2 separate regions of the Homo sapiens genome follow, and region 1 is linked to region 2. The links come from fine-mapping of genetic effects on gene expression. A gene starts in region 2. The other region holds a variant in brackets. All regions are shown on one strand. Distances are between the middles of the regions.

Region 1 (4,393 bases), 39 kb after region 2:
CATAGCAGTCCTGAGTTGAATAGTGCAGTTTGGTAAGGATCTTGCCCCACATGGCCATCTGAAGACTCTAGTTCCTTCCAGATTGTTGCTTTGCAAATGTAAGGACTCTGTCCTCATCTGCTTGACAGAAGCTGGATAGCAGGCACATCGGTCTTCCAGGTTGGAGAAAGAGGGAAGAGACTGTGGGAAAATACGTGCCTGGTGCCTAAAAGTTCAGACCCAAAGCAGCCCTCATGACTTCTGCTCATATTCTCTTGCTGAGAGCTTAGCCACATGGCTACACTTAGTTGAAAGAAAGGCTAGAAATGTGTCATCAATTGAACAGCAATGACTATATTACAACTCTATTATAGTTCCATAACTCCTTATCTCCAAGTTCTGAAATCTCAAAAGCTGTGAAAATTGGAAAGGTGTGTGTGTGTGTGTGTGTGTGTGTGTGTGTGTGTGTGTTGTTGTTGTTGTTGTTGTTGTTGAGACAGGGTCTTTCTCTGTCACCCAGGCTGGAGTGCAGTGGCATGATCACGGCTCACTGCAGCCTCAACCTCCCAAGCTCAAGGGATTCTCCCACCTCGGACTCCCAAGCAGCTAGGGCTACAGGTGTGTGCCATTGTGCCCAGCTAATTTTCTTACTTTTATAGAGACTGGGGTCTTGCTATATGGTCCAGGCTGGACTTGAACTCCCAGGCTCAAGCGATTGTCCTGCTTTGGCCTCCCAAAATGTTAGAATTACAGGCATGAGGCCGGCCAAAAGTTTTTTCTTAAGTTTGGCACAGACTCAAGTGGTGGCAAAATCTGACTTGAAATGACATGAGGAATTTATAGAGACATCTATAGACTATTTATAGTCTTTATTTCATTCACTTAGAATGAATATTAATGTATTTTGTTGCAAAAGTGCCAACATATTTGCTCAAGCTCTCCCCAGACCCCACTGGGGGAATGAATAATATGCAGTGTGTGCAGCATATCTCTCTGAAAACTGAACACTTCTAAATTTCAGGGCTCATCTTAGACCCACGCAAGAGGACCCCACATTTTGGAGGGCCTTACTTTGCCCTTCTTCTAGATAGCCCTTGCTGATTAGGTAGGCCTGTGAGGCAAAATGAAGGGCCTCTCACCACCTGAGCACCGCCCCCCCAACTCTAGATCATGTCCCAGGTACCTGGGCCACTGGAGTTTGCTGCCCAAGTGGTCCAAAGTCTGTGCAGATCTCTTTAATTGGTCTACCCTCTGGATGGGTGGGGGGTGGGGGTTACCGCTGTCATATGCACTCTTAAGGCCAAGACATAACCAAAGAGCAGCTGTTTGCAGCAGGTATGGATAGAGGCTGGTTGTGCAAACTAAAATGTCCACACATGTGCCCGTGAGACCACTCAAGGTAAGGATAGAATTGAGTGTGCAAAGAGAAAGGGGATAGATATAGTTATCCAAAATTGTAAATTTGACCCTGGCTATATCTATCAACATAGGACAGAACACAGCTCTTATTTATTTATTTGTTTGTTTGTTTAGTTTCAAAGAGATGGGGGTCTCACTATGGTGCCCAGGCTGTTCTTGAACTCCTGGGCTCAAGTGATCATCCCGTCTCAGCCCCTCAAAGTGCTCAGATTATAGGCATGAGCCACCATGCGCAACTCAGAAGACAGTTCTTATTTAGTAGCTTGTTAACTTGATTTACATATCGTAAATATATTAGGCATGGATATGTGGGCCTCCAGGCCTGCATGTTCGAGTGAGTCTGTACGTCAGCCCCAGATATTTTATTTTATTTTATTTTATTTTATTTTTGAGATGGAGTCTCTCTCTGTCGCCCAGGCAGGAGTGCAATGGCGCGATCTCGGCTCACTGCAACCTCTGCCTCCTGGGTTCAAGCAATTCTCCTGCCTCAGCCTCCTGGGTAGCTGGAATTACAGGTGCTCGTCAACACGCCCGGCTAATTTTTGTATTTTTAGTAGAGATGGGGTTTCACCATGTTGGTCAGGCTGGTCTCGAACTCCTGACCTCAGGTGATCCACCTGCCTTGGCCTCCCAAAGTGCTGGGATTATAGGCATGAGCCACCGCACCTGGCTGAGCCCCAGAGATTTTAGAGAGGGATTGTGTACTCGTGCTATGGGAGAACAGGAGAATGGACTCTACAGCTTGGTTCCTGGCACTTAGTAGGTACTTGATAAAGGACTGTTGAACTGAAATAGGAACAACAACTAGCTCACAGGATTCCTGGGACGATCACAGATAGCATATGTGAAAGCCTGACTTGAATTATGAAGGGGTCCCCGAATGTGGAGGAGGAGGAAGAGGATGGACGGAGTGGAGAAGTTCAGGGAGACCCGAGAGTAGATGCAGAGTAGATGATTGAACAACAGAATATGCCAAATGGTATTTGACAAATGATTGAGGAATGTTAGCAGTTGCATTAGTTATGAATCTTGTTGAAACACCAGAAACCAACTCAAGATAGCTTAAACAAGTTGGGGGCAGAGGGGAGGATGAAGAGAGGTGGGTTAAAGGGTACAAACATACAGTTAGATAGAAGGCATAAATT[CA/C]ATGTTTGATAGCAGAGTAAGGTGACTACCGTTAATAAAAATGTATTGTATTGGGAGGATGGACACCCTAAAAACCCTGACTTCTTTGTTATGTATTATATACATGTAATAAAATTTCACATGTACCCCATGGATCGTATGAAAAACAAGATAGCTTAGCCAGGCGTCGTGGCTCACGCCTGTAATCCCAGCACTGTGGGAGGCTGAGGCGGGCAGATGGCTTGAACCCAGGAGTTCAAGAACAGCCTGGGCAACATGGAGAAGCCCCGTCTCTACAAATACAAAAAAATTAGCTGGGCCTGACAGCGTGCACATGTAGTTTCAGCTTGGTAGGCTGAGGTGGGAGGATCACTTGAGCACAGGAAGTCGAGACTGCAGTGAGCTATGATTGCACCACTGCACTCCAGCCTGGGTGACAGAGTGAGACCCTGTCTCAAAAATATATATATATACAGTCCCAACCTGTAGTCCCACCTCCTGGCGGAGGCTGAGCCCAGGAGTTCAAGGCTGCAGTGAGCCATATGTGTGTGTGTGTGTGTGTGTGTGTGTGTGTGTGTGTGTACGTAATAATACATATATGTGTGTGTATTCACACATACATATGTACATATACACATTTATATATATACATTTATATTTAGATATATTATATAAATATTATAGATATATATACACACACGGCTCACTGTAGCCTTGAAATTCATATCTATATGAATTTATATATATATACACATTTATATATACACATTTATATATTATATGTTATATATAAATACACATTTTTATATATATACACATTTATATATATATACACTCACATGGCTCACTGCAGCCTTGAAATTCATATATATATGAATTTATATATATACGCATTTATACATATGCACATTTATATATTATATATACACATTTATATATATACATATTTATATATATATATATATATACACACACACACACACACACACACACACACACACACACACACACACAGCTCACTGCAGCCTTGAACTCCTGGGCTCAGCCTCCCCCAGGAGCTGGGACTACAGGCTGGGACTGTATATATATATATTTTTGAGACAGGGTCTCACACATACATATATACACATATGTATATATACACACACACACATATATACATACATATATATAGCTAGAACAAAAAAGGGGAATTGATGAAAAGAAAATAGAACGCATTCAATCCAGATCTCCTCTCATGGAACAAGTTGTCATCGACTTCTCATCTCTGCTTCTTTTTTCTTCAGGTCTGATGCATTTTTCTGTCTCTGCAGACCAGCTCCTCCCCCCTCCAAATCTCAATGGAAGAATGCGACATTCTGGATTCAGCTACCCAAAGAGGGGTTTTTTCCCCCTCTTTGTCTCTATTATACATTTTATAGGAAGGAATTCTGTCCCAGTTAATTCAAACTGGGACCAGAGGAACAGGGTCCCGCTGCTCAAAATGGCTGTCACCCGTGGGTAAGGGGAGCAGTCAGAGAGTCATTGTGACTGGGGTGGCAGTCCCACTCCAATCTGCCTTGTGGCTTCCTAGCCTGCAACATACATCCTCCCAGACATACAAAATGTGCCTCTGCCTGAGTCTTCCTGGCAGGGAGTTTGGTACCCCCCAACATTGGGAGGGGAGCTTACAACACAGGACTATCTCTTCCCATAGATAATCTCCTCACAAAGCTCCACTCAGGACCACTTATATTCTTGAGGTAAGGGAGGAGGTTCAAATGTCATGTAACAGTTTTTTGTTTGTTTGTTTGTTTTGAGGGAGGGTCTCGCTTTGTCACCCAACCTAGAGTGCAGTGGCGCGATCATGACTCACTGCAGCCTCAAATTC
Region 2 (4,338 bases):
AATTCTCCTCCCAGCGAGCCAAAGGCTATATGTTTGGGGTGGAGGAGGCTTCATCCCTTCTGGACTGGAGAAATGGGGACTTGGAGCCAAGTGCGCCAGACTTTAGGGAAAGAGAGGAGCTCCAGCTCCAAAAGGGATTTGGAGGGAAGATCCTATCAGGAAAGGCCCCCCAGACTTGCTTCCTCAAAGGGTTAGGGAAGTGCACTGAGAAAAGAGAACTTTCACTTAACTCTTCTCCATTAGGCATCTTTGTGCTTCCATTTGTACTGGAAAGCACAGTCCTGGGCAGTCAGTTGCACATTCCGCCTCTGGTATGTGGACTATGTGAAATATACCATGCAATGTTCTACTTTGCGAGGGGGGAGGCATATAGATGAAAATATGAATTTCCCTTCTACTGCCTTTATTATTGAGCACAGTTGGGAGCACATAATTTCACATCTCTTTCGCATGTCTGTATAAATCCTCAATCTTTAAACGGTGCTTGACTACTCCGAGAGGCACAGTTGCTGTCATATAAGATTCCTAGCCGACTCCGGCGAGTTACTAATTCCTCTCAGACTCCACAATACCCACGATGCACGATGCACACCCCTTTATGCTTGCTTTTCTTTACATGCCTTTTCAAAGGCGAATAATTTTTGTATTGACCCATGAGTCAGTCCATACAGTTTGAAATCCTTTGGATGCCCTCTGCCCACTCCCATAAACAACAGGTCCCTCCACAAAAATGCACATGCCCCGTTTTTGTGAGTGTGGGTTTCAAATAAGATGGCGTCTCCTGGCATTCCTTAGATTCAGATACACGCTCTCTCAGGCAGGAGGCTGCTCACAGTCCAGAGGGGAAGAAAACCTATGAGGCCCCCAAAAGCCAAAGCAAGAGACTCCCCCAAGTATTCTGCCCCCTCCACGCCAGGAGGCAGCTAGAGAGACAGCGCGCGGGAGAGCTGATTCTGCACCTTGGGGAGCTGGGGGCTTCTGTCTAGACCAAGAGTTCCAGGCCAATTCCTAATTTCCGTTAGGAAAAGTGGCCCTTCTTCCATCCCAAGCGATTCCTCACCCCCAAGGCTGCTCAGGGCGTCTGGCCCTTGCCTCTCTCACGGCATCCGCCTGGAATCCGGGGTTGTGAGCAGGAGGCCCAGGACGCAGGGCCTCAGGCTGGGCGGGGCACTGAGCACTCGGCTCTGGGGAGCCAGGGTTTCCGGTAGAACGAGGGGAGGCGACCCCCTTTCCCCACACACACACCTGTTGGAGAGGTAGGGTCGGGTGCCAGCGGACAGGGAGGCCAAGGCGTTTTCGGGTGCGCCCCGAGGCCCTACCCGGGAAGCTGCCTCGGTCTGGAGATCAAGGTTAAGCCGGTGGCCCCGGGAAGCCCACGCCTGCCACGGGCGGTTGGTCCTGAAAGCTCGGGCCACGGGGCTGCCCAGCTTGGAGAGGGGCCTTTCACGCCGCAGTCCCCAGCTGCGAGAGGAAGGGCTGCGCCCGCCTCCTCACCTACCTCTCGGAACCACGCCGTCCCCCGCGCGTCTTCGTAGACTGCAGGAGTCCAGGGCGTCTGGGGACTGTGACGGCGCCCAAGGCGGGGGATGTGGCGGCTCTGGGTCGCCGCCTTCTGCCCCCGCCTCTGTGAGGCCTCTCGAGGCAGTGTCTGTGTCTGGGGCAGCGACGCCGACGGCGCTGGGGGCGCGAAGGGGCTCACGCTCCTGCGTTCCCCTGGCGCCGGTGAGTGGCGGGCGAGGACAGGGTCCGGGAGGGGGATAGGCGAGAGCGCTTCCTGCCTCCGCCCGGGCGGGGCTCGGCCGTCTCACCTGCCCCCACCCACGGCGCCGTCGGATCCCAGAGCGGCTGGTGAGGAGATGGGCCTGGCGCGCCGCGGGGAGGCCAGAGGCGCGGAGGAGCAGCGCCCAGATGGCCGGAGAGAGCAGAGAGAGAGAGAAGAGAGAGAGAAGAGAGAGAGAGAGAGAAGAGAGAGAGAGGGAGAGAGGCAGAGAGGGAGAGAGGGAGGGAGAGAGGGAGGGAGGGAGGGAGGGAGAGAGAGAGAGAGAGAGAGAGAGAGAGAGAGAATATGAGAATATGAGAATATAAAAGGCAAGAGAGAAGCAGATCCAAGGGCGCGCCCAGAGAAACATCAAATGCACAAATAGACAAAAGAGGTAGAGGAGAAAGCTGAGTCCCAGGGGCTGAAAGAAGCCATGGGCGTCTGAAGCGAGCGACAAGTTATCCTTGGGAGTTGGAAATGTGAGAGGGAGGGGCGAGGCCGAAGGAGGCTGAGAAGGGGAGGGGGCGCTCACACCCTGGGCGGGAGGCGACTGATCCACACTTAGGGCTCCGAATCCGGAGAAAGAGAGCGCCGGACCCTCCTCCGCCCACCTCCCGCCCCAGCCGCAGCCCAGCGACTTCCCGCCATCCTCGGCCACCGAGCGGCTCCTGCCTGGGGTTGTTCGACCGGGATGGCTGCACCAGGCTGAAGGTTGTCCCTCTACCTGCCTCCTTTCTTCTGTTCCCTGTGCCTTACATGGGTTCCTCCCTATTCTATGAACCCAGAGGGAACGACCTTGGCCAAGGTTAGAGAAGGAGCTTGAAAGTTTCACTTTCCATCTTAGCCCTCAGGACGCCTTTGCGTTTTGGCCCTTCGTTAGCGTGCTATCCTGGAATTGCAGGCTCTTCTCTTTATTTCTGAGACCCAAATAGAGGTTTAACCTCCTTAAAATCAGTGAAACTACGACAAACAGTGGCATTCCTGGCTGTCTGGTCTCTAAGGAGTGCCCCCCCTCCCTGACCTCAGCCCTGAGACCCTGCTTCCTCCTCAACCTGCATGGGACTGGGGACACCCCCTCACAATCCAGTCCCTTCCTGCAGGTGGTTGTCCAGGGGGCATGTAGAGGTGTGCCTGAGCTCTGTGTCCTAAGCCTGGCTCTGCCACTGACTTCAGCCCCCACCCCTTCTCCTTTTAGGCCTCAGTTTTTCCTCTGTAAAATGGGCAGAGTGATTTTACAAGTGATTTTACCAAGTGAGAACTGTTGAAATATCTTACTATAATTGTGGATTTGTCCATTTCTCCTTTCAATTCTATCATTTTCGGTGCTTCATATATTTTTGAAGCTCTGTTATTAGGTGTGTACATTTAAGGTTGATGTGTCTTCCTAGGTGTGTACCACATTTAGATTTAGGATTGATGTGTCTTCTTTTTTGAGATGAAGTCTTGATCTGTCACCCAGGCTGGAGTGCAATGGTGCAATCTCGGCTCACTGCAACCTCCGCCTCTTGAGTTCAAGCGATTCTCCCACTTCAGCCTCCCGAGTAGCTGGGACCACAGGTGTGTGCCACCACGCCCAGCTAATTTGTGTAGTTTTAGTAGAGACGGGTTTTCACCATGTTGGCCAGGCTGGTCTCGGCTCCTGACGTCAGGTGATCCGCTTGCCTCAGCCTCCCAAAGTGCTGGGATTAGAGGTGTGAGCCACGGCTCCTAGCCATGATATGTCTTCTTATGCTTTGCTTCTGCAGCCTCCTCTCATTTGCAGGTTCTGTTGAGCTTGAACCGCTGAGAGAAAAATGCATCCAAATGGGAATTTTATTCTATATCCACGTAAACATGAATATAGAAATATGACAAAACTAAATTTTGCTTCCAAAATGTTTTTGTTTTGTTTTGTTTTTGTTTTTTTGTTTGTTTGTTTTTTCTGAGACAGAGTTTCGCTCTTGTTGCCCAGGCTGGAGTGCAATGGCACAATCCCAGCTCACCGCAACCTCTGCCTCCCGGGTTCTCCTGCCTCAGCCTCCCTAGTAGCTGGGATTACAGGCATGTGCCACCATGCGCAGCTAATTTTTTGTATTTTTAATAGAGACGGGGTTTCTCCATGTTGGTCAGGCTGGTCTCGAACTCCCGACCTCAGGTGATCCGCCCGCCTCAGCCTCCCAAAGTGCTGAGATTACAGGCATGAGCCACTGCACCCGGCCAACGCCCAGCTAATTTTGTATTTTTAGTAGAGATGGGGTTTCTCCAGTTCGTCAGGCTGGTCTCGAACTCCCTACCTCAGGTCATCCGCCCGCCTCAGCCTCCCAAAGTGCTGGGATTACAGGCGTGAGCCACCATGCCCGGCCCCAGAATTTTTTCTATTTGGGTCTATTTTTCTACTTTTTCTTCACTTTTTGTTGATATATAGTATTATAGAACCTAATATTAAACCTCTGGCTCAATATATTTTTGCATAGATCCCATCTGTGTAACCACCACCTAGATCAAGATGTTTCCGGCTTACCAGAAGGCCCCATTGTAACTCCTACCAATCAATAGCTCTCTGGTCAATCCCTCCATACCCCCTAACAATTATTTGGCTT

The links. PIP is the estimated chance that this variant, and not a neighbour inherited with it, causes the effect.
Region 1: its variant is the best candidate, but not a certain one, in a credible set for the expression of LINC03057 in whole blood (INTERVAL, PIP 0.64).

What each region holds. Positions count from the first base shown.
Region 1 is chr17:48,683,688-48,688,080 of GRCh38, forward strand. LINC02086 (long intergenic non-protein coding RNA 2086) reads left to right here. Exons shown (of 8, transcript NR_189645.1): 5 at 4,220-4,265. Among named protein-coding and RNA genes, the nearest start is that of PRAC1, 37 kb to the right of the region's middle. The variant CA/C (reference allele first, on the strand shown) is at 2,544.
Region 2 is chr17:48,645,107-48,649,444 of GRCh38, forward strand. LINC03057 (long intergenic non-protein coding RNA 3057) reads right to left here and starts at 1,746. Exons shown (of 2, transcript NR_186590.1): 1 at 1,499-1,746. It overlaps LINC02086 (long intergenic non-protein coding RNA 2086), which reads left to right. Exons shown (of 8, transcript NR_189645.1): 1 at 1-1,256. RefSeq lists enhancers at 1,283-1,951, 1,390-1,439, 2,330-2,539 and a silencer at 1,660-1,839.